Homo sapiens: one gene and its partners. The protein of the gene in region 5 interacts with the protein of the main gene of each other region in a biochemical or structural test. Each region holds a gene or a part of one and is shown on either strand. Other genes may lie near its edges. The genes, in order: LATS2, CEP78, MCM10, CUL4A, DCAF1, HLTF and CCP110.

Region 1 (4,539 bases), on a different chromosome or scaffold from region 5:
TTCCATGCACCTCTTAGCCATTTGTGTATCTTCTTTTGACAAGTGTCTATTCAGGTCATTAGCTCACTTTTTTTTCTTTTTGAGACAGAGTTTCGCTCTTGTTGCCCAGGCTGGAGTGCAATGGCACGATCTCAGCTCACCACAACCTCCGCCTCCCGGGTTCAAGTGATTCTCCTGCCTCAGCCTACCGAGCAGCTGGGATTACAGGCATGCACCACCACGCCCAGCTAGTTTTATGTTTTTGTAGAGACAGGGTTTCACCATGTTGTTCAGGCTGGTCTCAAACTTCCGACCTCAGATGATCCACCTGTCTCAGCCTCCCAGGGTGCTGGGATTACAGGTGTGAGCCACCGCGCCTGGCCTTATTTTATTTATTTATTTTTTAATTAAGACGGAGTCTTGCTCTATTGCCCAGGCTGGAGTGCAGTGGTGAAATCTCGGCTCACTGCAACCTCTGCCTTCTGGATTCAAGCTATTCTCCTGCCTCAGCCTCCTGAGAGCTGGGACTACAGGTGTGCGACACCATGCTCAGCTAATTTTTGTATGTTTAGTAGAGACGGGGTTTCACCATGTTAGTCAGGCTGGTCTCAAACTCCTGACCTCAAGTAATCCGCCTGCCTCAGCCTCCCAAAGTGCTGGGATTACAGGCGTGAGCCACCATATCTGGCCTTTTGGCTTACTTTTTAATGGGATTATTTGATATTTTTTTTGCTGTTGAGTTGAGTTCCTTGTATATTCTGAATAATAGTCTTTTGTCAGATGAATAGTTTGTGAATATTTTCTCCTGTTCAACACAGGTATCCTCTTTACTCTGTTGTTTCCTTTGCTCTGCAGAAGCTTTTTAGCTTAATATAGTCCCATTTGTCTACTTTGGGGTTTTTTTGCCTGTGCTTTTGAGATTTTAGCCATAAAAATCTTTGCTCAAACCAATGTCCTGGAGTATATTTTCATAGCCTCTGGTCTTATTTCTAGGTCTTTAATCTGTTTTAAGTTGACATTCCTATATGGTGAGAGATTGGGGTCTAGTTTCATTCTTCTGCATATGGATATCTAGTTTTCCCAGCATGTCTCTTTTTCAGTGTACATTCTTGGCACCGTTGTCAAAAATCAGGTGGCTGTAAATACGTGGACTTATTTCTGGGTTCTCTATTCTGTTCCATTGGTCTATGTGTCTGTTTTTATACCAATACCATGCAGTTTCAGTTACTCTAGGCTTGTAACATATTTTGAAGTCAGGTAACAATTTTGTTCTTTTTGCCTAGGATTGCTTTGAGTATTTGGGCTCCCTGTGAATTTTAGTATTGTTTTTTCTAGTAATGTGAAAAATATCATTGGTATTTTGATAGGGATTGCATTTAATTGGTAGATTGATTTGGGTAGTATGGTCATTTTAACAATATTAAATCTTTCTGTCGGTGAACATGGGATCTCTTTTCATTTGTTTGTGTCCTCTTTAGTTTCTTTCTTCAGTGTTTTGTAGTTTTCTTTGTAGAGCTCTTTCACTTTTTGGTTAAATTTACTCCTAGATTTTTTTTATAGCTGTTGTAAATGGCATTCATTATTGGTGTACAGAAATCCAGATATCCATATGCAGAAGAATGAAACTAGACCCTATCTCTCACCATATACAAGTCTATCTAATGTATGCTACTGATTTTTGTATGCTGATTGTTGACTTTTCTTCCTGCTTTCCCATTTTCCCTGAGTTACTGAAAGATTAGATGGCTCTTGGAGTTCTAGGAATGCTGTGGTCCCCTTTTCCACAGATTTGTGTTAATAGAAGTTTCCCTTAGTTTTTAGAGCCAAAAGTATCCTAGAGAAAGAACTTTCTTTTTTATCTTAACTTTTCATTCCATATTCATGTCTATATATGGATATAAAAAAACAAAACTGGCCGGGCACAGTGGCTCAAGCCTGTAATCCCTGCACTTTGGGAGGCCAAGGTGGGCAGATCACCTGAGGTCAGGAGTTCAAGACCAGCCTGGCCAACATGATGAAACGCTGTTTCTACTAAAAATACAAAAATTAGCCAGGTGTCATGGTGGCGGGCACATGTAGTCCCAGCTACTCGGGAGGCTGAGACAGCAGAATCGCTGGAACCCAGGAGGCGGAGGCTGCAGTGAGCTGAGATTGTGCCACTGCACTCCAGCCTAGGCGACAGAGCGAGACTCTGTAGTATATGAGACCCATTCTTCTCTGTTCTCCTTTCTGTAAAATGAGCTAGGTTCCTCTCAGTTCCAGGGCATCCCCATCCCAGTCATTTGTTATCATGGGACTTCTCTAATGTGATTCTTCCTCCTTCCTTTTCCTTCTACACAGGCTGGACTCTGTGAAGCTGAGCAGGAGCAGATGCGGAAGATCCTCTACCAGAAAGAGTCTAATTACAACAGGTTAAAGAGGGCCAAGATGGACAAGTCTATGTTTGTCAAGATCAAAACCCTGGGGATCGGTGCCTTTGGAGAAGTGTGCCTTGCTTGTAAGGTGGACACTCACGCCCTGTACGCCATGAAGACCCTAAGGAAAAAGGATGTCCTGAACCGGAATCAGGTGGCCCACGTCAAGGCCGAGAGGGACATCCTGGCCGAGGCAGACAATGAGTGGGTGGTCAAACTCTACTACTCCTTCCAAGACAAAGACAGCCTGTACTTTGTGATGGACTACATCCCTGGTGGGGACATGATGAGCCTGCTGATCCGGATGGAGGTCTTCCCTGAGCACCTGGCCCGGTTCTACATCGCAGAGCTGACTTTGGCCATTGAGAGTGTCCACAAGATGGGCTTCATCCACCGAGACATCAAGCCTGATAACATTTTGATAGATCTGGATGGTCACATTAAACTCACAGATTTCGGCCTCTGCACTGGGTTCAGGTGGACTCACAATTCCAAATATTACCAGAAAGGTATTGTCTGAAGTGTGCCACATGCACTTTCTATGTGTAGATGTCACTAACCCCATTGCAAGCAACTAAATTTCCCATCCTAGTGGCTCCTAATCATTTTGAAATTTTTATCTGTCACTCCATTATTTTATAAATTGGTGTGACATCCTTCCCTTCCAAAAGGAATAGTGTGATATGCATTTTTTTTTAAGGTAGTGGATTTCAGGTTTACTTTTTTTTTTTTTTTTTTTTGAGACAGAGTTTCGCTCTTGTTGCCCAGGCTGGAGTGCAATGGCGTGATCTCGGCTCACTGCAACCTCTGCCTCCTGGGTTCAAGTGATTCTCCTGCCTCCAGCCTCCCGAGTAGCCGGGATTACAGTCACGCACCACCACCTCTGGCTAATTTTGTATTTTTAGTAGAGACGGGGTTTCTCCGTGTTGGTCAGGCTGGTCTCAAACTCCCAACCTCAGGTGATCCGCCTGCCTCCGCCTCCCAAAGTGCTGGGATTACAGGTGTGAGCCACCGTGCCTGGCCTACTATATTTTTAAGACAGTAGGCTACAAGGTGTCACGGGGCCTTTGTGGGGAACCATCACCTGCCTCATTAAAGCAAGCCTTAAAAAATAAAAGATTTGGCTGGGCATGGTGGCTCACGCCTGTAATCCTAGCACTTTGAAAGCCCAAGGTGGGCGGATCACCTGGGGTCAGGAGTTCGAGACCAGCCTGACCAACGTGGAGAAACCCCGTCTCTACTAAAAATAACAAAATTAGCCGGGCGTGGTGATGCATGCCAGTAATCCCAGCTACTGGGAGGCTGAGGCATGAGAATCGCTTGAACCCGGGAAGCAGAGGTTGCGGTGAGCTGAGATCGCGCCATTGCGCCCCAGCCTGGGCAACAAGAGCGAAACTCTGTCTCAAATAAAATAAAATAAATAAAAGAGTCACAGCCTCCCAAGGAGCCCTCTCTTATAGCCAACCTGCATCTATGTAGTGTATCATTGAACTCCATTTCCTATAGTTCTGCCATTTGGAAAAGCCAAAAACAGCTGATTATTATCTTCTTTATGGCTGAGATTCTTGAAGTAGTTATTTTAATATCATCACTTAGTCTTTTTTCTCTAACTCAAAACTAACTCTAAATCATTTAATTCATTCTCATTTTCTGGCATTGAAGTAACCTTTGTTCATGTTGTTTAAATCCTCCTAAGTTTTCCATGCTCATCTTAAAACATGTGTCAGGCAGTTGTTACCTTTTGATTATGGCCTAAGCGCTAGGAGTGCTGTCCCCGCAGTTCTTCCAGCCTCTCCTGCCTGCAGTGCCTTCCTGCCAGCTCAGCACGGTGCATGGTGTCCTGTGATTCTTCACCGTCATTTCTACCTTGGTGCTAGCGCCAACCTCACCACGTGTGTCTCCAAACTAGGAACAGCAGGCTGCCCCTATGGAGCAGCTCAGCGGGGATTCTCTGTCCTGATATGTCAGGAGCTGATTGGAATGACTTTGCTGTTTTAAGCTGTGGATCTGTTGAGTTATTGAAGAGTGAAAATTCACTTTATATTTTGTTCTTTTCTTTCACTATCCCTGATTCCTGGGTGAAGGGAGCCATGTCAGACAGGACAGCATGGAGCCCAGCGACCTCTGGGATGATGTGTCTAACTGT
Region 2 (4,097 bases), on a different chromosome or scaffold from region 5:
CGGCTGGCTAATTTTTTCTATTTTTAGTAGAGACGGGGTTTCACCATGTTAGCCAGGATGGTCTCAATGTCCTGACCTCATGATCTGTCCCCCTCGGCCTCCCAAAGTGCTGGGATTACAGGCTTGAGCCACCGCGCCCGGCCCAAATCTACTCTTATTAGTGAGAGAAAACACCGCACTGTAGCTTGTCTATTATATTCAACCACTAGGCCTTAAATACTATGGACTTCACATATAAGACAACTGATTTCCGGCTGGGCACAGTGGCTCATGCCTGTAATCCCAGCACTCTGGGAGTCTGAGGCAGGCAGATCACAAGGTCAAGAGATTGAGACCAGTCTGGCCAACATGGTGAAACCCCATCTCTACTAAAAATACAAAAATTAGCTGGGTGTGGTGATGTGCACCTGTAGTCCCAGCTACTCAGGAGGCTGAGGCAGGAGAATCGCTTGAATCCAGGAGGTGGAGGCTGCAGTGAGCCAGGATCGTGCCACTGCACTCCAGCCTGGCCACAGAGCAAGACTGTCTCAAAAAAAAAAAAAAAAAAGACTGATTTCAGCGAAAAGTTATTTAATATTTTTAAATATTTAATTTTTCAAAAACAAAAATGAATGGAATGGAAAGCCATAACAAAACATTTTGAGGCATTAGCCAATTTAAACTTGTAATTGTTATACCAACTAAATTGGAATTGGAAAAGAGAGCAACTGTAGAAAGTGATATAAGCCTAGGTGTCCCTAAAGAAGAGAAAATGAATACCATTTTTTTTTTTTTTTTGAGACAGAGTCTCGCTGTCACCCAGGCTGGAGTGCAGTGGCATGATCTCGGCTCACTGCAAGCTCTGCCTCCCGGGTTCACGCCATTCTCCTGCCTCAGCCTCCCGAGTAGCTGGGATTACAGGCGCCCGCCACCACGCCCGGCTAATTTTTTTGTATTTTTAGCAGAGACGGGTTTTCGCCGTGTTAGCCAGGATGGTCTCAATCTCCGGACCTCGTGATCTGCCCGCCTCGGCCTCCCAAAGTGCTGGGATTACAGGCGTGAGCCACCGCGCCCAGCCAATGAATACCATGCCTCACTTGCCGTTCCAGCCAGGCATCACAAAAACGGCCTGCAGTTTACTTGACTGTGAGCAGCAGTGTGGACCTGGGTAGAACTCACTCCTGCAGCCTCTCTGATACATAGTTCTGTTCTTTTATTATAGTTGGTGACAATAAATATTTGTGGAATAATATTTGTGTGGGAAAGATGCAAAGGCCACATGGTGAAGGAAGAAAACAGGTTTGGAAGTCAACAAATCCTGCTTTTGCCTTGTGCTACTTGAAGCCCTCAACCAAGTGAATCAATACCTCTCAGGCCTCATTCCTTCTTCTTTAAAATAATAACACCTTTTACTCCTTGTAGGTTTGCAATATTTGGAATAATATACAAAAGTGTCTCCTATCTGGTTACAATAAGGAACTCAATTCTTAGGTAAGATTTAGGTGAAGTTTGGCTTTGGTATAAAGAAATTAGAGCTGGTTATTTGGCAAACTGATTTTAGTGTTTTCAAACTCTACTCAAATTTTATCATTTAAGCTAGGATTATCTAGCTTTCAAGATTTTGTGGAGTTTTCTTGTTTTCTTAAGGAGATAAAAGCCGCCTTCACATTTCAAGGACTTTGAGGACCATCTTTCTAACACATTAAATAAACCAACTAATCTTCACTGGTCTCTCTGGAACAAGCTAATTATTATTTAATCTATAAGTGGGTCCTTATCTATTTCTAAACTACCAAGGTTGCCTTTTTTTTTTTTTTCAGTTCACAGTGGTTTAAAATGTACAAACTGTACTAAGAGAACTCGGGCATTCTCTGAGCCCTTTCAGCCCCTATCACTCACTATGTGCCTTTGTGAGCAGCCAGCCATACCTTCTGAGCACCTCAGTCACAGGGCAAAGTCTTCTTATTTTTTAACTTTTTGACCAAATTATATGTGAAAATTCTCAGGTAGATGTATCAGTTTGAAAACTCAGGTTTTCAGTGTCACAAAAGGGTTCTGAAAAGGGAAATCTAAAGAAAATTACCAGAAGACTATAGAGAGTTAAAGAGCTCAAGGAAGGTAGGCTTTGGAAGTAATTTGCAAATGCAGAAATGACTTTTAGCCATAAAATAAAACAAATGTGGGAAAGACTTGCATTGCCCCACGAGTAGCAGTTTTGTCAGGGGTAAACAGAGCAGATGTTTGAAACACTCTAGCCAGTGTTTCCAAACAGTAGGACATTACCCATTAGTGGATTGTGAAACATACTTCGTGAGTTGCCAACATAATTTTCTTTAAAGGCAAGGAATAGAACAGAACATGAATTAGTCACTAGAAGTACAATCAGAGTTGTTTGATGCAATTTTCCATTAATTATACGTGCACACAAGGAAGGTGGGGCCAGGACTACTACTTTTAACTTTGCAGAAAGCTTCATTTTTACTGTGGGTTGTGGTTAAGTTAAAAACATTTGACTATGCCATGTAGGCGACTCCAACACTTCAGGAATACAAAGCTCTGAAAAGAGGTTATGTAGCAAAGCTCATTTTCATTCACATTGATAATAGGTCAGACACATTTTTGAAGAAAAAAATGGACAGAGCGTAAAGGATAACAGAGTACACATTTTCATTTTCTATGATGAAAAGGAATTTTAAAAATTGTCTGTTGTACATAAAAACTTTTTTTTTAAACCAAACAACCTAGAATTAAATGGAGTAAAATGTGAGAAGCCCCCCTTTTTTCCTCCTTCAGCAGACAAAACCGCTGTCAATAGCTTGATATGTGTTATCACAGACTCTTTTCTAGGGTGCACACACGCATATATGCTACGTATAGGTAAACAAGTTTTAACTATACAAATGTAAACAGGAGTGCGTGGTTACTGTGCAACTTCTTCGTCCTGTCAATGTCTTAGAAATATTTTCATGTCCACACTAGAGAGCTATTGTCTTTATCTGCTGCAGAGTGTTATATGTCAGAAATTGGTATGTACTAATTCAACAATTTCTGCATTTCTGTACATTTATGCTGTTTCTAGTTTTTTATTATCTCAAAAAACACTTCACACAGTCTTGTATCTGACTCTTTGGGCACTTGTGTGAATATTTCTTCAGGCTGGATGCCTAAAATTAGTCATTAGATCAAAGGCTGGAGACATTTCACATGTTGATACACACTGTCAAACTGTCCATCCAAAAGCTGTATCAATTTCTACAATGACTGAGAATACTCCTTTCCTCACATTATCTCCAGCACTATCACCAATCTTTAATAATCTGCCATTTCAATGTATTGAAAAATAGTATCTCATTTTAACTTTAATTTTCCTGATTGCTTACGAGGTTGAAAGTTTATGTTTATAGTCTGTATTTCTTATTTATAAAATATTTTTATAGCCTTTGTCCAATTTTTGTTGTTTGTAGGTGCTCTTTATATTATCTTAAATCTTCTGTTCTATTACATGTATTTTCCCACTCCTTTATTTATGAAATCTAATTTTATCAAAGTTTTGTAAAAAGTGAAAGGTTTTACTTTTTAAAAATGTAGTCAAATCTATCTTTTTTTTCATGGCTACTGGGTTTTGTGTCTTGGTTGGGAATGCCTTTCTTACACATTTATTACAATTTTTTTCCAGTATTTTCTTCTAGTTATTTTTAATTTCCATGTTTAATTCATCTTGATTTTTTTCATCCATGATATGAAATAAGAAAAAGTAGTAAATAACCTCAACATCATTTACTGAATAGTTCAAACCCTTCTCTACTGACTTGTGATGCCATTTTTTAAATACATATATATATACATTGCTCTGTTCCTAGGTTCTCGGTTCTATACCTGTGATTATTCCTGTGTGAACAGCACATTTACCCTAACTCCATGGATTGTTTTGAGATGTAATCAAAATTGCTTTATGCCTGATGACTTTCAGATTAATGTTATAATCAGGTTATTACATCCATTTAAAAAGCTTTACTGTGGTTATATGAAATTGCTTTGAATTTATAAATTAATTTGGTAGAACTATTTATTATGTTGGGTCTTATACATGGCATACCTCTATTTTTGTGTTTCTTTTA
Region 3 (4,539 bases), on a different chromosome or scaffold from region 5:
GAGGTTGTATAAGGATTAGCTTGAGTTGCTTAGTCCACAAAGACTCCAAGGCTGCACAGTGCAAGAGAGAAGAGGCCAGGCAGCCCCCTGTGCTCTGAGAATGTCACATGCCTGCAAGGAAGCAAAGAGGCCTCCACCATCTCTTGTTCCCGTCTGCCAAAGAGGGCACACCCCGGGAAGAGGCTCTGGCTCACACCACTGGGGGCCACAGGTGGAAAATGCTGCCTGGGGACCCCATACTATTCACTTTGAACCCTTCACAAGAGAACGAGGGCTAATCCCATGGTGCCTCACAACCCCGTTTACCTCAGTCACCACCAAAAATCATGTCTTCTCTGTATTACGCTGACTCAATCTCCCAGCCTCTTTGTTCTCAAACCCCTGGGATGTGAAATCTACTATCAGCACGTTTCTCGGATCCCCAGTGGCTCTTACAACAGAAATCTGGCTACCCCTGGAAGCCTCTTGAATGGAAAGCATTTAATTGTTCACACCTCACATGGCAATGTCTAGAATAGTGTTCGGCACGTATTAGGCATGCAACAAATACTTGTTGATCAACTTCAGGTTCCTGATGTCTTCTTTATCACTGTCACTTTGGAATGATTCAGTCTTTTTCCAGATCACAGCTCTCTGAAGTTCAAGACACCAGACGCTGGCATCAAGAACCCCTCATGGCACTGTCATGTGCTGATCATCATATGTGTATCATGCATGCCCCCCCCGGTCCTCCCCTCCATCTCTACTGTTATCACCCTCCTGGGGCACTTCAACCTCCGCAAGGATGATCCAGCCAACATCTTGGTCGCTGGGTTTCTCATCCACTCCCCATCTTAGCTACCCACTCCCATAGTAACTCCAACTCATCACAGCAAAGCACAACTGACCTCTGAACGTCCCTCTGTGATCCAACCTCCCATCCTTTCAGCCCGCTCACTCTAGTATTCACATCCAGCAGCTCTTCAGCTTCATCCACATGTCTAACCCATCAGCCTACCTACAATGTGTTTCCTGTCCATCACCCCCTGCCCCTAATGCCCTCCCTGTGGATCCATGTTCAACACCATCATCACTCACTGCCTTCTAAAGACTCAGCTCCCTGGCTGGTGAATGGTCCTGGAGAAAGACTCGCTACCATGCTGACTGGTCTTTTTTGTTTGTTTATTTATTTATTTATTTTTCAAGACAGGGTCACACAGGCTGGAGTGCAGTGTTGCAATCTTAGCTCACTATAGCCTCAAACTCCTGGGCTCAAGCGATCCTCTTGCCTTAGCCTCCCAAGCAGCAGGGACTAGAGGTGCACACCACCATGCCCAGCTTATTAAATATTTTTTTGTAGAAATGGGGTCTTGCCATGTTGCCCAGTCTCGTCTTGAACTCCTGGCCTCAAGCGATGCTCCTGCCTTGGCTTCCTAAAGTGCTGGGACTACAGGTATGATCAACAAGACCCTGCCTCAGTCTAACTTTAAATTTTTGCACACCCATAACAAACAAGCATTCAGCACTGCTTAAAGATTCCCACACTTCCTCAATTCATTCGCTTTCCCAGGCTCTGACCACTTCACACTGTCTCTCCTCAAACCTCCTATGCCCACTCCCCACTCTTTACTCTTAGCTGATGATATATATATATATATATATATATATATGTATGTATGTATTTTTTTTTTTTTTTGAGACAGAGTTTTGCTCTTGTTGCCCAGGCTGGAGTGCAATGGCACGATCTCGGCTCACTGCAACCTTCACCTCCCAGGTTCAAGTGATTCTCCTGCCTCAGCCTCCCGAGTAGCTGGGATTACAGGCATGTGCCACCACGCCCAGCTAATTTTGTATTTTCAGTAGAGATGGGGTTTCTCCATGTTGGTCAGGCTGGTCTCGAACTCCTGACCTCAGGTGATCCACCTGCCTTGGCCTTTCAACGTGCTGGGATTACAGGCGTGAGCCACAGCGCCCAGCCCTTGGCTTATATTTTACAGAAAAAATAGATGTAATCAGACTTCCTCATCCTTCACTCCCAACTCTGAACGTATCTTCTCTGCTTTCCCTCCTGGGACTAAGTATCTAGTGCTATTCACAGCCAATTCTTCCACTTACATTCTTACATTGGGTCCCACTTCTCAGCTTCTCAAAGACTTCATTCTACAATTACCACCTCTCTGGCTCCTGAATCCCCAGTTTCTCCCTCTCCTCTGAAGCACTCCTGTCAGCATACAAAGACATAGCAGTGTCTCCCATCTACTAACTACCCGTTTATTGTTTTGTTATCTTTCTCCCTCCACTAAAATATAAGCAGGAACATTGTTCAACAGTATATCCCAAGTACCATACAGTCTCCGATTTCCTCTACACCGGCCAAATTGTGAACCCATGCCAATCAAATGAGATTTTCTTACTAAATATTATGATTTCTTTTTCCTCTTTTTTTTTTTTTTTTTCAGATGGAGTCTTGCTCTGTCACCCAGGCTGGAGGTGCAGTAGTGGGATCTCGATGCAATGCAACCTCTGCCTCCCAGATTCAAGTGATCCTCCAGCCTCAGCCTCCTGAGTAGCTGGGATTACAGTCACATGCCACCACACCAGGTTAATTTTTGTAGTTTTAGTAGAAATGGGGTTTCACTATGTTAGCCGGGCTGGCCTCGAACTCCTGACCTCAGGTGATCCACCCACCTTGGCCTCCCAAAGTGCTGGGATTACAGGCATGAGCCACCGCACCCAGCCTAAACATTATGATTTCTTCTTTCTTGACCTATACTGTTTCCAGATAGATACTATGATTTCTTAGAGAACAGGTATCCATTCACCTCTTATTTTCATGTCAATCTGATAGCAAAAAGTGATGCTTTGTATTATATAACCTGCCCTGTAGGCAATTTGCCAATTTTAAGAAACAGGAAACTACCATGATAGCATCAGGCAATGAGTTTCACATAAGGAATAACCCCTTATCTGAGGGTTTATTTTCTGTGGTTTTGATTTTCCATGGTCACTGTGGTTGAGGACAGTACAATGGATATTTTGAGAGTGCAATAGATACTTTAGAGAGAGACCACATTCACATAACTTTTATTACAGTATATTGTCATAATTGTTCCATTTTATTATTGTTGTTCATCTCTCACTGTGCCTAATTCATAAATTATACTTTATCACACGTATGTATGTACAGGAAAAAACACAGCATGCCTAGGGTTTGGTACCATCCTGGGTTTCAGGCATCTGCTGGGAGTGTGGAAACACATCTCTCAGGGACAACGGGGGTCCACTGTGCATCACAGTGTGAGGAATTTCAAGTTTTGTTTTAAAGGGCAAAGTGTAATATGTTTGAATTTTTTAAAAAAACCCAGTTTCAGATTATGAGTTCAATTATGCAACTAGATCTCTTCACAACCAGCACAATCATTTTAATTTTTTAAAAATAGAAATGAGGTCTCACTCTATTGCCCAGGCTGGTCTTGAACTCTTGGGCTCAAGCAATCCTCCCACCCCGGCCTCCCAAAGTGTTGAGATCACAGGCGTGAGCCACTGCGTCCAGCCCAGCACAATCATTTTAGGTGATCGCTAATTAGTGCAACATCTCTTTTCTAGGTAAACATTTTGTACACATCCTTGCAAAATGAACAAAATTAGAAAGGATGATATTAATAAAAACTTAAGTCAGAGCTAGACTAATATCGCTTCAGCAGATTTCATTATCAAATGTAAACTCTGAAGTCAGACTGCCTGGTTCAAAGCCCTGCTATGCCAGCTTGAACTGTGACAAGTTACTAAACATCCCTGTTTTTCTGCCTATAAAATACGTTTGCCTGAGGACTGAATCAGTTAATTTCCACAAGGATCTTGGAGCAGTGCCTGGCCCACTGTACACCTACCAGCTATTGTAATTATGAAAGACAATCTCTGTTGCCAGAAGAAATCTCCCCTGATAAAAGCAAGTAACATTCAGTGACCTCTGTGAGATGTGAGATTGCTTCAGAACCACTAAGACAATACCTGAGGGCTGGGGAGCATTTTCACCATTTTACAGGTAGAATAAATAACAAGTCCATGGACAAAAGGTTAGTTTTCCTTGAAACAGAGTAACAGAAAACTGCCAGGTCTTACCATCCATGCTGTCAAGAGGACAGTTGTGACAGGAAACTTCGAAGGAGGCTCAGATGCCCAGATGAGCAATGTAGAATCTTGGCTGTGTGAAAGCAATATTAGAAATGTCACTTTCAATTCTTCTCTTTCTCTCACAACACACATCCAACAAACCCAGAATCCTACCACTCCTATGGGCTCTAACCTCAGAATTCATCCAGAATCTGACCATTTCTCACCTCCTCTCTCCACACCGCCAATGCCATCTCCTTCCTTGGATGTAGCAGCTCACTTTTACTTGTGTTTAAGGTTACAGAAAGTTATTGAGCTGCAGAGCAGTTTGTAAATCACACTAGATTACGTGGATGAGATAAATTATGAGGAAGAACTATTGGGGTTGGCTAGGTACAGTGGCTCAACGCCTGTAATACCAGCACTTTGGGAAGCTAAGGTGGGCGC
Region 4 (4,539 bases), on a different chromosome or scaffold from region 5:
CCAACACTGGAGACCACATTTCAGCATGAGATTTTGAGGGGACACATATTCAAAACCATATCATTGGCCTAAGAGAGAAATTCCCTTAACCAGAGTTTTAAAAAACATTTATACTATGTTATTTTTCTAGAAGTTTTTACATTTAAATCTTTCTTTTCATGTTGCAGAAATTATTTTAGTATCTGAAAACAGTCTAACTGCCCCCATCCTTTCCAAAACCAAATTTAAAATATCATCCTTGAACAAGTTATTTGAATTATCACCTTATTATGTATCAAATTCATATAGGTCAGTTTCTCAATTCTCTTCTATAAATTCTGTGTCTATTTCATAGCCAGCCATTTTTTTTGTTTTGTTTTGTTTTGTTTTTTGAGACAGTGTCGCCCAGGCTGGAGTGCAGTGGTGTGATCATAGCTCACTGCAGCCTCAACCTCTTGGGCTCAAGCGATCCTCCCACCTCAGCCCCAGGCATATGCCACCACGCCCAGCTAAATTTTTGTATTTTTTGTAGAGATGAGGCCTTGCCATGTTACCCAGGCTGGTCTTGAACTCCTGGGCTCAAGCAGTCTTCCTACCTTGACCCCCCAAAGTGCTGGGATTACAGCCGTGAGCCACCGTGCCCGGCACCAGGTTCTTTTAATTAATGTAGCTATTCCTATAACTTTATTCTTCCAATGAACTTGACAATAATTGTATCACGCCTTTGCTCCCCCAAATAAGAACATTGACATTTTTAATCCATATTGCATTAATTTACAGAGCTTTTATCTTTATCATATTAAATCTTGTGATTCATACATATGTGTATATATGTAAATACATACAAATCTTTTTCTCAGAGCTTTCTAGTTTTCTTCTGTAAGTCTTGCATATTTCTTGCTAGTCATAAATTTTCATTCATTCAACAAATACTTATTGAGCATCTGTGGTGGCCCAGGTCCTCTGTGAAGCACTGAGAATTCATCCATTAACAATAAAGAATAAGTCCTTGTTTCTAGGAGTGTTCAGTCTTTTCCAGCAGAGAGGTAGCAGAGGATCACACACATTGACTAACTTGTAAGAGTGGAGGAAAATGTTAGGATAGAGAAGTGCAGGAGAGTCTAATTAAATACTGTCGTCAGCCAACGCTTTCCTGAAGAAGTGACTAGCTTTGCTCAGGAACTGAAAGAAGGCCTCTGGCTGCAGCATCGTTGCCAAAAGGGGAAGCTGAGCCAGACAGGCCTGATCAGGGAGCCACAGCTGGACCCTCTGAAGATGGCTCAGATCCATGAAGCATTTGGAAAACCACTAGAGTTTTAAGCAAGACAGGCTAATGAAATGCTGATATCTTATAAAGGGGACCTTTTTTCTTTACATTTCTGACGGTTTTTATCAGAATGTATGTATTAATGCTATTTGTCTTTGTATATTTATTTTATTTCCAGCCACTTTACAAAACTCTTTAGCTTTGAAAGTTTTTCTGTTGATTTTCTTGGATTTTCCAGCTCATCTACAAATAATGATCGTTTTGTCTGCACCTTTTCAATATACCTCTTTAGTCTGTTCCTGTATTGCATAGTTAGAACCTCTAAAGTAATGTTTTTAAGGAATAGCAGTGCAGCTGAGCTTCCTAATTTTATCTCTAGTTCAGAGGATGTTAACTTTTTGGGGGTCATGGATCCTGTTGAAAATGTGATGAAAGCTTGGAGTCTCTCCCATCCTGAAGCATACTTGCCTCATATGTATGCACAGACCTTCCCCCAGCCCTCATTTCAACTGCAGATCCCCATCAGGTTCCTGTTGGACTAAGGTTAAGTTGTCTCTAGTATTTGCTGTTTGTTTCTGATAACCATGTTTTATCATGTTCAGATGCTTTTTTATTCATCCTTGTATGCTAATGTTTGTTTTAAATCAAAAAATCAATTTTATCATGCCTTTTCAGCATCTATCAAGATGGTCATGTAATCTAACCTTTCAACTGCTACAGTGCTCTCACTTATATTCACAGATTTCCTAATGTTGATCAACACTTAACATTTCTGGAATATATCCTGATGGTCATTATGTTTTGTTTACTGTGCTGCTAGTTTTAATCTACATCACACATAGAGTTGTTGCAGCTTTCTTATAAGGAAAATAACTTTTAAAAATATTTTTTAAGTTTTGGTTTTGGAGTTTTGCTATTCTGGGAAGGTACCTTTTACTACAACAAGTAAACATGCATAATAAAGTAGGATTCATCCAATGTCTGACCTTTCTTTGCATCAAAAGAACATTTCCGGCCAGGCACGGTGGCTCACGCCTGTAATCCCAGCACTTTGGGAGGCCGAGCCAGGTGGATCACGAGGTCAGGAGATCGAGACCAGCCTGGCTAACATGGTGAAACCCTGTCTCTACTAAAAATACAAAAATGAGCCGGGCATGGTGGGGGGGCACCGTAGTCCCAGCTACTTGAGAGGCTGAGACAGGAGAATGGCGTGAACCCGGGGGGCGGAGCTTGTAGTGAGCCGAGATCGCGCCACTGCACTCCAGCCTGGGTGACAGAGTGAGACTCCGTCTCAAAAAAAAAAAAAAAACCATTTCCCATCAAATTCGGTAACATCAGGTCATTAATATTGAAATATAGGCCAGGTGTGGTAGCTCACACCTGTAATCCCAGCACTTTGGGAGGCCAAGGTGGGCGGATCATCTGAGGTCAGGAGTTCAAAACCAGCCTGGCCAACATAGTGAAACCCTGCCTGTACAAAAATACAAAAAGTAGCCGGGCATGACAGCAGGTGCCTGTGATCCCAGCTACTCGGGAGGCTGAGGCAAGAGAATCGCTTGATCCTGGGAGGCGGAGGTTGCAGTGAGCCGAGATCACACCATTGCACTCTAGCCCAGGCAACTGAGTGAGACTCCATCGCAAAAAATAAAAAGAAAATACAGTTTTACACTTAACTTTTTTTTTCTTTTTTATACAGGTTGAGGAACAGGTTAGCACCACTGAGAGAGTGTTTCAGGATAGACAATATCAGATTGATGCTGCTATCGTCAGAATAATGAAGATGAGAAAGACTCTTGGTCATAATCTTCTAGTTTCTGAATTATATAATCAGCTGAAATTTCCAGTAAAGGTAAATGTAACATTAGCATAATTAAATTTGTAGTATTTGCTAAACAATTGACAAAGCATGTTTAATTCTATGTTCAGTCATATCATTTGACCTGCATTATTCATGGTGCTTTGTGTATACACTGAATGTAGAAAAACTGGCAAATGTGAAGCTCTTTATTCCAGGTGTTGCTCATTGCCACTGCAGAAATGATAGAGCCCTAAAACTCTCCTTCCCAGGGATGGTGCGCGCTTGTTCATATTTTCAGGAAGGGAAGAGGTAGATGGGACATGGAAAGCTGAACACTTTTCTCATAGTAGTAGCGGTCAAGGTTACATCACAAGATTTTAAGGAAATGATAACAATAACTAACTTACTCAGCGTTTACAGCCTACACCGCGTTTTCCACCACGGTAATAGTCTACTGTTGCTGTTGCTTATGAAAGTCAGCCCAGGCCTGTCAACCCGCGTTGTTTTCAGAACTGAGATTTACTGTCCTGCCACGTGTGGGATGCAGGATAAGCCGGGAAAGTATTATGAAACGTTTTTTACATGTATTTATCAACCCAGGAAATACTGAACTCTGATGACGCCTGGCCTCTCAGGGACAGGACCGGCCACACGTGCTTTGGAGGGAAAGTCCCCAGATTCCATGTTGTGCAGTTTGAGCCTCCCATTCCATCAAGGGAATAAAGTTGAGATGCACTAAATAGTCGAACACTTAAGAGTCTGGTGGAAGTGCCACTGTCCATCAGCCCACATTTGCCCCCTTCCCTGCAGAGGTGAGGTGCCGTCCTCAGGGCCCTGGGAAGCTCCAAAAGCACCATCAGGTTCACTGCCCCTTCCTCCCACCAGCTGGAGCAAGTCTCCTGTTGCCACTGCAAACAATCAGGCCCAGCGCGAAGCAGAGGTGAGCAAGAGTGGAGTGTGGCAGACCAGGGCACCTGCTCTGCTCTCGGGTAGAGAGTGGCAGACCAGGGCGCCCACTCTGCTCTCAGGGGTAGAGTGTGGCAGACCAGGGCGCCCGCTCTGCTCTCGGGTAGTTGGGTTTTTTTTTTCTTTGAGATGGAGTCTTGCTGTCCCCCAGGATGGAGTGCAGTGGCACGATCTCGGCTCACTGTAACCTCTGCCTCTCGGGTTCAAGCAGTTCTCCTGCCTCAGCCTCCTGAGTAGCTGGGCTTACAGGCACGCGCCACCACACCCAGCTAATTTTTGTATTTTTAGTAGAGACAGGGTTTTACCGTGTGGTCAGGCTGGTCTCAAACTCCTGACCTCGTGATCCGCCTGCCTCAACCTCCCAAAGTGCTGGGATTACAGGCGTGAGCCACCGCGCCCAGCCTCAGCCACATCTTGTAAAATGTGTGGCTTATCACTGAATAGAAGGTGAAGTTTGTTTGGAAAATAGAGGGTCTCCCTTGTATAGGGAGAGCCTTGCACGTAAGTGCTCACACAGATTTTCTTCCTA
Region 5 (4,539 bases):
TCCAGTCCATAAGGAGCAGTTACTTTTCAGAAGGTCCACATCCACGCCTCAGCCCTGACTGGTGCCCATGACCTTGACCCTGTAATTATTAAAGCTTCTGATACCCGAAATTCTTGAGCTGACTATGAAAATGTTATACCTAGGACACATAAAGGGGAAGAAAAACAGAATGAAAAGACTTGGTGAGGAACCATCACCCTTGGAACAAACCAGTCTTGCTCTGGTGAGAGATCCAGATTCCTCTGAGAAAGGGATGACAGTGTGAGTCCAGAAAAAAAGGAGACAGGATCCTCTAAGCTGTCTTATATTGGGATTTTCTTACTATTTCTCTTTGTACTGTACATCTCCCAAGCCCCATCAAATGAATAGGTTATCAATAATCTACCTTCAGGAATGTATTGACTTTACATCTTATATCAGACAAAATGTCTGTAGTACAACTTGAAAATTATCCTAAACATCAGAACAAAAGAGCAGGGCCTCTGCAAGCTCCCTTTACCTCAATGACAGCAAGATAGCAGTCTTTGGTGTCTGTACACAGGTCAAAGATGTTCCGTTTCACATCAATGGTTGCTGGAAAATAGAATGTGAGAAGATTGGGATTGGACTATTGCTGTGACCCTAAAACCTGCTTTTCCTCTAAAGGAATTCAGGATGATTGCTCAAAAGTATTTCCATAACTTCTCTGTTTTTCAATAAAAAATTACAGGCCTCCAGAAAATGAAGGATCTTAAATAAGGAACACCAAAACACGACAAAATGTTCAATGTCTGTCCCTTTCTGCTTACCTATAGGTTTGTAGTCAGTTGCATTAAATGTTCGGAAGGATGACCCAAAGGGGCTTTTCATCCTCTCTTCCATTAAGTCATCTTCATCATCTGCCTGCAACATAGCTTGAGGGGGAGTGGGGGAGGAAACACTATTAGGAATCACAAACATCCCCTCTTCACAAGTGCAGAAAATGTTAATGGCCAATCAAAACAATCTACTTGCATATAGGTTTACATACAAATTCCCTTGTACAGAAATCTACTCTGCATCTAGTTAGCTCCTCTCAGAGCATCTTCCTTGCATATCCCACCTATTGTGACAAATAATATCCTCAGCCTCTCATCTACCTCCAAGAAGTGTTACTGTACTTACAAGGCTTATAACAACACAAGAGGACAAATGCAAAAGCTCTTAAGTTCATAATGATACACTGGAAAATACTGCATGAAATTTCTTTCCATACAAGATTTCCTTGTTATCTTCAAAGTAAGCTGCCTTTCACCCTAAACCAACATTATTTTCATATCTTTTGTCACCATTCATACTATCAATTTTTTATCTTTTATGTTACAACTCTCAAATGCTTTCCAATTCACAAGTGAGAGATGGTTCCAAAAAGAAGTATCAAATTAAGTGAAGGGGTAGAGCAAAAGGAAAGAGAATAATGAAGGATAAGGTTTATTACCTCCATACATCACTGTTCCCGTGTGATTGAACACCACGCGACACTGATCCAGAGCGGGAACAGTATGCAAAAGATGAAAAGTTCGAAGGTCCCACTAGGAGGGGAATGGTCAAGGAAAACTATTTTACACAAAACTTATCTAATCTCATGGGAGGAAATTCTAAAATATCACTTTTTTTCCTCCTGCCAGGTATTGATACTTTAAAAGTCAATGAGATCAAGGTAAAACAAATACATGTAGAATGCATATTATTGAATGATGTCTCTGAAAATATCCTAGGGTATCCTCATATACAGGAATGCTTTATGAGCTCTTTTCCTCCCAACAGTAGTACTTCATTTTCCTCTTATGTGGCAACTGATTTTTTACAGAGCAAAAGTAAAATCCTTCTGAAGACAGATAAAAGCTAATTCAATTCTTGGAGAACTGGGAGGTAGGAAACTGGTCACTCTTACCAAATACATAGAAAACATGCTAGTGAAAGTTGTCAGTAATTACTAACATTGGCAACAGTGCTTTGGAGATTTCACTAACATTTCAAACCAAAGGACAGGCACCATATTATTACCAGTGTGGACACTTTAACCAGGTATTGGTATAAAGATAGAACAAATTATTTCTGCACCACAAACCAGACAACAAATGGAAGGTAAGACATGAGTATAAAGGATACAATCTCAGTATTAATGATCACCTCCAGTCCATTTGGATGGAAAACACCACTGATGTTCATATTGAACTTGTCAAACTTGTGGATGGCCTGTGCAGAGCGGACATCCCAGAGGACGCCATCATTTAAGACAAGATCATCTGTAGGATTAAAGGTGGCACAGTTCCTCTTGTAGTTGTTGGCAAGATCTGGGTTAAACAGAGTCAACAGCTTGTTGCCAGTCTGAATATCATAAATCTTTAGAGAAGAAGGGATGGGAAGAGAAAAATCAGACCAATCCATCCACTGACAAATTAAAGAGAAAATGTGCAAAGCAGTTTCTAAAATTAACACACAAATTCTCCACATGGATCAATGATTACCACAGAATACTGCCTCCCAAAGTGCTGGGATTACAGGCGTGAGCCACCGCACCCGGCCAGGCACCTCTTTTTCTCGGGGTTCCATTCTGCCTTACTGGCCATTATATTTGATTTCCTTCCCAAGTTCCTCATTTGGCAACTCCTAAACACATGCCAGGGTTCTATACCCACAACTCTTCTCTAGTCCCCTTGATGATCTCATATAAGTTCATGGCTGTAAATACTATCAGCTGGGGACAGTGACTCATGCCTGCAATGCCAACATTTTGGGACACCAAGAAAAGTGGATCACTTGAGCCCAGGAGTTCGAGACCAGCCTGGGCAACGTTGGGGAAATGCCGTCTCTACAAAAATACAAAAAAATTAGCCAGGTGTGATGGTGCTCGCCTGTAGTCCCAGCTACTCAGGAGGCTGAGGTAAGAGGATTGCTTGAGTCCAGGCAGTCAAGGCTGTGGTGAGCTGTGATCGTGCCACTGCACTGCAGCCTGGGTGACAGAACAAGACCCTGTCTCAAAAATAAATAAATAAATAAATACTGTCAATATGTGGACAAGTCCCATATTTATATTTCCCAACCCACACCTCTCTCTTGAACTCCCAATTTTTTGTTGTTTTTATTTTCAGAGACAGGGTCTCACTTGGTTACTCAGGCTGGAGTACAGTGACATAATCATAGCTCACAGCAGCCTCCAACTCATGGGCTCAAGCAACCCTCCCGTCTCAGCTTCCTGAGTAGCTGGGACTATAGGTCCCAAGCCCACCAAGCTCAGCCAATTTTGTTTATTTTTTGTAGAGATGGGGGGAGTCTCTCTATGTTGCCCAGGCTGGTCTCGAACTCCTGGCCTCCCACCTCAGCCTCCCAAAGTGCTGGGATTACAGGCAGAAGCCACTAAGTCTGGCCAGCTCCCAACTTTTGTATTCAATCCCCATTCTCTACTTGAATGTCTAAGAGAATCTCAAATTTCATGTGTCCAAAATCCCAGGGCCAAGGTCCTCCATTTCTCATAGCCTCTACCATGCCTACCCAGGCCCAAACCCACAGCTCCTCTCATGTGTCAGGTGGTACAACACCCTCTGACCTGGAAGGCTGCTCTTGCTTCTCTCACAAAAACCAGAGTCACACTTCAGGAACTTTACATCCACTCATGTATCCTCTACTCACCCACCAGTGTCTTCATCTCACTCAAAAAAAAAGCTAAAGGCCCTAACTACCACCTACAAGATGCTACCAGATACAGGCCCCTCACTGACCTCAGCTCTCCTCCCACCTCCCAAGCAAGGGCTTTTCCCTTGCCATTTCCTGTGCCTTACGCTGTTCCTCCAGGTATCTTCCTGAATCTCGCGTTTCCTTCAAGGCTCTGCTTAAACATTACCCCATCAGTGATGCTGTCTACCCTAGATAAAAGAGAAGTCCCCCACACCACCACCAAGCATTTCCTACCTCTTACCCTGCTTTCATTTTCTCTGAAACACTTACCACCTAAATTTACCGTATATTTGCTTCTTTATTGTCTCCCCAATGAGGGTCCATAAAGGCAGGGGTTTCATTTCTAATCTAAAACTTACTAAGAATTCAAAAATATCTGTGGTGCTAATGACATCTTTCTCAATGTCACATTTAGCCCTTATACATTTTTCCCATACAGCTCAGAACTATATTATCATACTTTTAGATTCTAACTAGAAGGAATATCACTGATTTCTAGTTGCCCAAAGGACTTAGGTCCTCACATTCTATCAAGAAGATTTCAGTATGAACAAATGGGTATGATCAGCTTGAAAACAGTGGTTCTTAAGTACTTACGTGGGCAATGTCTCCTTTTGTGCCGATGACCCGATCCTGGGAGTGCTTACTGAACTCAACATAGTGATCTTCTGTGAAGGAATGCCTATGGACAAACAACAGGAGCACTGAAGTGACAGATCTTCAGGACATATTCCTGCAACCAACTGAAACACAGGTGACCCCCAGCCTCTTGCACAATCACACTCACCTAAAGATCCTGGACTCCCAAAGAGGAAACAATCATACACTTAGATTACAAAGAAA
Region 6 (3,493 bases), about 98 Mb from region 5:
TTCAAATTACAAGATTTATATTTGCAGAGGTGATCCATATATACTTATCCCCTTGCAGTGGCTGGTATGACCTTTGGTTGTAAGACAAACTTGCCCACAACAGAGGTCAAATCCATGCCTTTGGAGATTAGCTCCATGGTGGATGGAGCTATGGTTTATGCATAAAGTAAATGTTTGTTTACCTTAATTCTCCTTATACCCATATTGTCCTGCTGTATAACACATTTTGCAGATATTTTGAAGTTAATGTGTTAAAAACTTGAGGTTAAACATTTGAGTTTTTGTTAAGAGCCAAACATCAAATGTGCCCTTATATTTTTAATGAATCTCATCCAAATGCTAATGCATAAACCTTGACAAGTAGTATAAATAAAACAAGAAAAAAATACAGCAATGTCTTTGCCATTCCCCAAAACAAAGCACACACTGCCGAAGATCATTAGTACTCACTGGTAACAAACTACATAGGGTTAGTTTGTATTTCCAATTCTAGAGCTGTAATTTTAAGGACAAAATGTACAATGATTGATTAAGAGTGCTATCTGTGTATATATAGGTATTATCACAACTCCTTTTTTTCTTCCAGATGAAGAAATTAATTGGGACCAATGTTTTTAGATCAAGGCATTTTAAATAAGCACTCTTGATTTCTGAACAAGAATTTCAACCAGCTAAATTGAGCAAAATAAAGTTAGTTAGGATATGAGGACATTATTCTGTTACAGTAATCTTCATGTACTCTCAAAAAAATGTAACACTTGCATAGAAATGTCACAATTAATGAAGGATTTTATTTGAAGATAAAGTCAAAATTATGGCACCGAGGAAGGTAATAAACATTTGAAATTTTTATTGATTTTTAAATTTAAAATCCAGTTTTAACCACAAAATTGTTTGAATCACAAGTGGTAATACAATGTCTTCAATATTTTTCTAAAGTTATTTTTCTATATAATAATAAGACAACAGCATAGCATATAGGAAGTTTTCATTCCAGTGGCTTTTTTATATATTTATCCTTCTTAGGAAGGACAAATTAAATTTTTTAAATTAAACTTTTAAAATATAACAACATCTAACAGAACTGTACAAAACAAAGAGACATTTTTTAAACAACTTGCCAAACTTACTTATGAGTGTGTTTTAAAAACAACTTTGTAAATGTCTGGGCAAAGAAGCAAGCTGTCCTCCCTTTACCTTCATAGTGAGTTTGTAAGGCTTTGTCTTTGTAAGCAGAAAGAGTAGACTGTGTTGTTTTTTGCCAAAAACTGTTTATACTTAATCTCACTGAAGTATTGCTATATGGAGAACCCATACTCTGATCAACTTGATTTTTTGTGTGTAATGCTTGATCTACCAGGTAACTTCCCAACTGCTCCTAATGCTAGCGGGCTAATCCCACATTATTATTCCACTATCATCCCTGCAGAAAGGTCTTGGTTTTGATGAAAATCAGCCCTTTCCTTACCTGCTACTGCCTCAAAAAGGGACCAGGAAGATTCTAGCTGGCTAATTCACTGTTCCCTTTGAGCAAGAAAACGGCACAGGGAGAAAAGGACTTATCTGGTGAGAGATTTGGCATATACCTTCAATGTGTGCCCTATAACACAACATTGTCTCCGATCTCATCTTTCTATCAAATGACTTCCAACACTCTTAAGTCTCAGGTATTCTTAAATCTGTATCATCAAACATGAAGCTTCTCTTGTTTGTTAGAGTAATTAATCTTTCTTTGGATTAAAGTTTCCCTTTGAAATAAAACCACCTACCTAATCTGACTGCTAAATTTCTAGCTTCTTTGTTTTAAATATGCTCAGGAGTCAACCCAAATTCTGCAGCAAATAAGTTTGCTTATTAACAAAAAAGTAAAAAAAAAAGAAAAGAAAAAAGATGACTAATTCTACAGATAGCTGTAAGGATGAATTACTCAAGTTCAAAATCAAATTCTGATTCTAAACACATAACAATTGTTTACATTCAGGATTAAGATGTCTTTAAGAGTTGAAACGACTTTGGAGATCATCCAGCCCAACTTCCATCCAGATATCACGCCTCTCACATATAGTAGTCTTCTGAATTATAAAAATTTATAAAGTTACTTCCAAAAAAAGCTACATAAATAAAAATTATCTATTTATAGAAATATCTATTTAGCAGTTCCATAATTTAAAATATTCAAATCAAATTGGGTAGGACTGGTTTGCCTCTCACTCCCACAGACTATATTTATACCTCAGACACAGCAAGTTACATTTAAACAATGAGTGTAGTACTACTTAACTAAAATGGAAAAAATAGTACTCTTAACATAATCCCTAATTTTTTCATGAACATAAAACTCCAAGTCATTTATGTGAACTATATCTCAATGTAGCTGTAGGAAAAATAAAAACCTGTGCTAACCTGGACTTTGGTCTCATTTAAGATTTGGTTCTGGAATGCAAATATGGTTTTTGAAAGCCCAATAAAATTAATTCTTGTATAGTCTGTATATATTGTTTACAAGGACTACAAACACTGCATCACAAATCGGAGGCTTTGGTAAATAACTAAGTGTCCAACATAGAAAATAACTATTTGGTCAAAAGTATAAAAGGTCTGACCTTATTTGAAATACGAAAAAGCTGAGTACTTGGAAGATACGTGAAAATACTCAGCATAGATATTATGAAAAGCTGAATAACAAAGTAACCTTTTTTCTCAAATTATTTCAGGCCACAGTATATAACGGAACTTATTGCTATTTGAAGTTTCATTAAAAATAGGTTCATATATAGAAGAAATTGTGTCAGTAATACCTCTTCACTAATATAAAATATGCCCCTTTTAGAAGACGTGTTCTCTAGATCTCATTTCTAAAACTCTGTATTTTTCTCATTTCTAAAACTTAAGTATCCAATCAAACTGACCTTACTAAAATCCCACAAATTATAAGTCAATTAATGTTCTGATTTCATTAATTTTGGCTTGTTTCATTTCGTCAGCATTTGGTTTTTTAGTTCCAAAGGCTCCTGCTGCAAGTTCTCTCTTTTTGTTTTGTATTTTCAGCATATTTTCTTCAACAGAGTCCTTTACAATGAACTTTAAAAAGAAAAAAAAAAGTTAAGTAGTTTTTAAGGCATAGTATTTAAAATCTTTATTAAAAAAACTAAATGAAAGATTTGCCTAATGGCAAAAACCGCAATTACTTTTGCACCAAACTATAATAACTATTTAATAGAACTGAACTTTGCTTTCCTTACCCAATATGGTTTTCTTATATAAAGAATATGGCTGTACGAATAGAAGTTACAGATCACAAGATAAGCAAAGCAATAAAGAAAAAAAAAGCAAACTATATAGGCAACTCTGGCAAAATGACTTCAGCATTGTATTAAAAAGGCCATTCTGGCCGGGCACGGTGGCTCACACCTGTAATCCCAGCACTTTGGGAGGCCGAGGCGGGCAGATCATGAGGTCAGGAGATCGAGACCATCCTGGCTAACACGGTGAA
Region 7 (4,539 bases), on a different chromosome or scaffold from region 5:
TCTATCATAGAATCTTAGGTTTTACAGGTGAAGCAGAAATCTAATTGTATTATATAAAATTTTCCTATCTGAATAATTAATTCATTACAGTTCAACATTATACATGCTCTTTTAACAATTTTATTAGTAGTATATTTTATCTTCCCTCAATGGACCAAGAATGATATGCCATTTTCATTTCAATCACAGGAAATACGTAGTAAGTAAAAAACCTACCTCTTATTGTTAAATTAGTGCTACTCAATACATTTTTTAAACTTAATATGGACAGTAATTATAATCTGCAAAATGAAATCTACTACCCACACACTATATACTACTGTGAAAGGGAAATAATATCTCAGGACCCCAAACTCAACTATGTCACATGAGAGTCACTATGACTCTCATTAACAATTCTCTTAATACTACCTCTCAGCCTGCGTCTAGATTGTTCTCTTTCTATATATTCCTTTGACTTTTTCATCAGATTCTGAAGACTCATTACATAGGGATTTCGAGTAACTGAAATGGAAAATCACATGTCAAAGGAAAAAGTAAAGCTTAGGAACTGAGTCACACAAAAACTGCCTTCCTTTTATTCCTAAACAGATAGCTGCAAAATAGAAGGCCACCTATCTACCCAGGTAGACTCTCTTGCAAATTGCTCACAAGGAAATTCCTCGTAGGCCCCAAAATCTTTACACCAACCCAGAGTTCTGCTGAATTTCACTCTGACAAGATACGGACAAAGACCAAAGATGACTAGAAATCATCCCTTTGGAGACAAATGTATATTTGACTTCTTCCTCTACTCTGCTTACTTTATCCTATGTAAAATGCAGATTTATTGAGCTTGAGATGAATGCATAACTGACTGTTCCTCTACCCCCACCTTTCTCATGCGACTTGTGGATTCAGTGAGTGCTAATCAAAGCCTCACAAAAATGTGATCGCTTATCTCATTACCTACCCTCCTTTTTTTTTCTTTCCTCTTTCCCCTCCTGCTGTTCTCTCCCCTTTATACACTGAAGTCCTCAAAACCTCTTCTGGAAAAGCATAAGCCACAGATTCTACTGTAACTTTTGTCTCTTTTTCCTTGGCACATCCTCAACCTTGGCAAAACAAACCTCTAAATCGATTGAGACTTGCCTCAGTCATTTTCTTCAGTTTACACTACCAACAGAGAAATGAACCCTTAAGGTTCATTATACACGTGTCATCGATACGAATTAAACAGACAAACCACAAACTCCTAAGATTATGAAAAAACAAAAAGATGTTACCAGCAGAACACTGCTATATGTTGTAGAAATTATTCGTTCAATCTAATTCATTTGTTTTTCTTTTTAGTACAAAATGATCCACATGTCAGAACAAATTGTTTATACAAATCTAAAAATAACTGCACAAGGTGTAGATGTGTTGTTTAAATAGTTTTTAGACATAGGATGCATCTAAACAATTCAATGTTATCTAAACTGCATTTTGTGTATCTAAGAGTTTTCACCAAAAAAAAATTGGAGGCAGTTATTTACTTAAGCAAAGAATGAGAATAAGGTCATTTAGTCAATAGTCTAATTAGTTTGGGGTAAACAATAATACCCAATTCTGTCATTTTGTCACTGAGAATTCAATGTTTTTAGAGTCATAAGATGCAAACAATAAGCAATTATATTCAGTGTATGGTTCTATTGTGTAAATATCCTCTGATTCAAGTACTGGGCATTACTAACAAGCAAGTACATTCTCTTTGGAGTAACTGAAATGGAAAATCACAAATTATGAAGCTTCTCAAACGTAACAGTAAAGTACATTAGTAATTAGTTAAGTGCAAATATATTTCAGAAAAATTATCATCAACGCTTATCTTATGATTTCTTTATTATAACTGAAACAGCTAAAATCACACACCTGAACATTGTCAAGAATCTCCTGGACACGAGTCAGTAAAGCTTTCTTCCTGTTAACCTGCTTTCTTGCTTCTACATCAAGTGCTTTCTGCTTTTCTTGTTGCATTTCCTTTCTTTTCTCAATGTTAAGCTGCAAAACATCATAAAAATGTAATTATTTCCCACGATAAAAATATCATAAAATCGGGAAGTTGTGAATCAGAAAGATTAAAAACATGTGCAACAGGCAAAACTAATGTATAGTGAAAGAAATCAGAACAATGGTCTGGGTACTGAGTGGGATGGGGCATTAGAGATCTTTCCATGGTGAAGAAAATCCTGTGTGGGTGTGAGTTATACATGTGTATGCCATATATCAAAACTCATGGAACTTTAACACTTAAGATTTGTGCATTTTGCTATGTGTAAATTATTTTCAGTTAAAAGGTTAAAAAGAAAAAAGTTTGTTCACTAATCAAATGTTCTAAAATGACAGAAATAAAATTAAGGCCCTTTTGGCCACTGCTGAGTTTTTTATTACTTCACTTGAATATTGACTTGAATATTACTTCACATTCAGTATCCTTTTTTTTTTTTTTTTGAGATGGAGTCTTGCTCTGTCACCTAGGCTGGAGTGCAGTGGTGCGATCTCGGCTCACTGCAACCTCCGCCTCCTGGGTTCAAGCGATTCTCCTGCCTCAGCCTCCGGAGTAGATGGGCTTACAGGCGCGTGCCACCACGCCCAGCTAATTTTTGTATTTTTAGTAGAGATGGGGTTTCACCATGTTGGTCAGGCTGGTCTCGAACTCCTGACTTTGTGATCTGCCCACCTCGGCCTCCCAAAGTGCTGGGATTACAGGCGCGAGCCACCGCGCCTGGCCCATCTTCAGTATCTTATTTCACTGGATCAACTGGATTCTACAACTTTTAATTTTCTAACCAGTGCACAATTTAACTCTTTGCTGCCTCAAAAAATGTCCAAAGGTTTAATGATAAAATAAACAGATAATATATTATTTGCCTACAAAAGCAGAATACATCTTTTCTTTCACCTCACTCTACCTTCTGATAAAAATATAATGTACCTAAAAAATGGAAGGCTTCTAAGCATTGTATCTCTTTATAATGGATTTCAATCTTAATTATTAAGTCCTGGGAAATTAAATCACTGTTAACAGTCAAGACTTATCGTAGACTTACACAAATAGAAAATATATCATTAAAAAATTATTTCAAAAGTTGCAATATTCACCTATCAAATACAACATAAAAGTGTGGATTAGGTCCATAAACATCACATTTTGCTTATAAATAAATAACAGACGGAGTCATAGACCCTACACAACAAGCCTCAGACATTTTGGTCCACATTAAATCAAGCAATGTGTTATCAAATAGCTGATAAATATGTTGTTTTAAAACTTTTTCCTAATTGCATGGTACCAAAGAATGATTATACAATTTACTTGCTAATCAAAAGGAGAAAATGTGTACTTTAAAGAGCCATCTGGCAGTCACTACTGTAAGCAAGTGTTCAAACTAAACATCACTAATAGAGGGCAACTAAACATTATGTAACTTCTGATTTAATTTAGTATGAAGTGCAGGGCATCATCTCCAAAGAATTCCTTTTTTTTTTGAGATGGAGTCTCAGGTTGGAGTACAGTGGTGCGATCCCGATCCCTCCTGGGTTCAAGCGATTCTCCTGCCTCGGCCTAACGCACAGCTGGGATTACAGGCACCCACCATCATGCCTAGCTAATTTTTATATTTTTAGTAGACAAGGGGTTTCGCCATGTTGGCCAGGCTGGTCTCGAACTCCTGACCTCAAGTGATACACCCATCTCGGGCTCCCAAAGTGCTGGGATTACATTTTTTTTTTTTGAGAGAGGGTCTCACTCTGTTGCCCAGGCTGTTGTGCAGTGGCTCGATCTCGGCTCACTACCTTTGCCTACTGGGTTCAGTGGATCTTGGCTCACTGCAACCTTCGCCTCCTGGGTTCAAGGGATCCTCCTGCCTCAGCCTCCCACATAGCTGGGATTACAGGCATCCACCACCACGCCCAGCTAATTTTTGTATTTTTAGTAGAGACGGGGTTTCGTCATGTTGGCCAGGCTGGTCTCAGCCTCCCAAAGTGCTGGGATTACAGGCATGAGCCACCCCGCCCAGCCCTATCTTCAAAGAATTCCAAAAATCTTTAACCTGTTTATCAAACTTCACTTCCAGTTCATAGGAACTACAGGGACTAGAGAAACAAGTTAAATAACACTATTAGGAAACAATGGGACAAATCCAAGATCTAAGGAATTCTACAAGACAATAGCTCTGGTCTCTTTAAAAATTCAGTATCATAGTTTTGTTATTTTTTTAAAGACAGTATCTCACTCTGTCACCCAGGTTGGAGTGCAGTGGCATGATCAGGGTTCACCGCAGCCTCAGCCTCCCGGGCTCAGGTGATCCTCCCACCTCAGCCTCTAGAGCAGCTGAGACTCCTGGTGCGCGCCACCACACCCAGCTCTTTTTTGTATTTTTTGTAGGGATGAGATTTCACCACGTTGCCCTGACTGGTCTCAAACTCTGGGGATCAAGCAATGCAATCCACCCACCTCAGCCTCCCAAAGTGCTGGGATTATAGGCGTGAGGCACCATGCTCAACCAATAAAAAAAA

What was found.
Region 1: of the proteins of DCAF1 (region 5) and LATS2, one has a biochemical effect on the other in vitro, tested with the Homo sapiens proteins (one study listed by BioGRID).
Region 2: the proteins of DCAF1 (region 5) and CEP78 form a complex in vitro, tested with the Homo sapiens proteins (one study listed by BioGRID).
Region 3: of the proteins of DCAF1 (region 5) and MCM10, one has a biochemical effect on the other in vitro, tested with the Homo sapiens proteins (one study listed by BioGRID).
Region 4: the proteins of DCAF1 (region 5) and CUL4A form a complex in vitro, tested with the Homo sapiens proteins (one study listed by BioGRID).
Region 6: of the proteins of DCAF1 (region 5) and HLTF, one has a biochemical effect on the other in vitro, tested with the Homo sapiens proteins (one study listed by BioGRID).
Region 7: of the proteins of DCAF1 (region 5) and CCP110, one has a biochemical effect on the other in vitro, tested with the Homo sapiens proteins (one study listed by BioGRID).

What each region holds. Positions count from the first base shown.
Region 1 is NC_000013.11:20,981,587-20,986,125, reverse strand, and holds part of LATS2 (serine/threonine-protein kinase LATS2), read left to right. Parts: intron 1-2,319; coding exon 2,320-2,902; intron 2,903-4,477; coding exon 4,478-4,539. UniProt on the Homo sapiens protein: Negative regulator of YAP1 in the Hippo signaling pathway that plays a pivotal role in organ size control and tumor suppression by restricting proliferation and promoting apoptosis.
Region 2 is NC_000009.12:78,276,766-78,280,862, reverse strand, and holds the end of CEP78 (centrosomal protein of 78 kDa), read right to left. Parts: 3' UTR 1,173-4,097; downstream 1-1,172. UniProt on the Homo sapiens protein: Centriole wall protein that localizes to mature centrioles and regulates centriole and cilia biogenesis. Involved in centrosome duplication: required for efficient PLK4 centrosomal localization and PLK4-induced overduplication of centrioles.
Region 3 is NC_000010.11:13,163,772-13,168,310, reverse strand, and holds part of MCM10 (protein MCM10 homolog), read right to left. Parts: intron 4,184-4,539; 5' UTR 4,109-4,183; coding exon 4,102-4,108; intron 1-4,101. UniProt on the Homo sapiens protein: Acts as a replication initiation factor that brings together the MCM2-7 helicase and the DNA polymerase alpha/primase complex in order to initiate DNA replication. Additionally, plays a role in preventing DNA damage during replication.
Region 4 is NC_000013.11:113,257,665-113,262,203, forward strand, and holds part of CUL4A (cullin-4A), read left to right. Parts: intron 1-2,942; coding exon 2,943-3,095; intron 3,096-4,539. UniProt on the Homo sapiens protein: Core component of multiple cullin-RING-based E3 ubiquitin-protein ligase complexes which mediate the ubiquitination of target proteins. As a scaffold protein may contribute to catalysis through positioning of the substrate and the ubiquitin-conjugating enzyme.
Region 5 is NC_000003.12:51,412,494-51,417,032, forward strand, and holds part of DCAF1 (DDB1- and CUL4-associated factor 1), read right to left. Parts: intron 4,379-4,539; coding exon 4,294-4,378; intron 2,365-4,293; coding exon 2,131-2,364; intron 1,551-2,130; coding exon 1,457-1,550; intron 894-1,456; coding exon 789-893; intron 574-788; coding exon 500-573; intron 1-499. UniProt on the Homo sapiens protein: Acts both as a substrate recognition component of E3 ubiquitin-protein ligase complexes and as an atypical serine/threonine-protein kinase, playing key roles in various processes such as cell cycle, telomerase regulation and histone modification.
Region 6 is NC_000003.12:149,029,292-149,032,784, forward strand, and holds the end of HLTF (helicase-like transcription factor), read right to left. Parts: intron 3,082-3,493; coding exon 2,929-3,081; 3' UTR 836-2,928; downstream 1-835. UniProt on the Homo sapiens protein: Has both helicase and E3 ubiquitin ligase activities. Possesses intrinsic ATP-dependent nucleosome-remodeling activity; This activity may be required for transcriptional activation or repression of specific target promoters.
Region 7 is NC_000016.10:19,529,899-19,534,437, reverse strand, and holds part of CCP110 (centriolar coiled-coil protein of 110 kDa), read right to left. Parts: intron 2,023-4,539; coding exon 1,894-2,022; intron 1-1,893.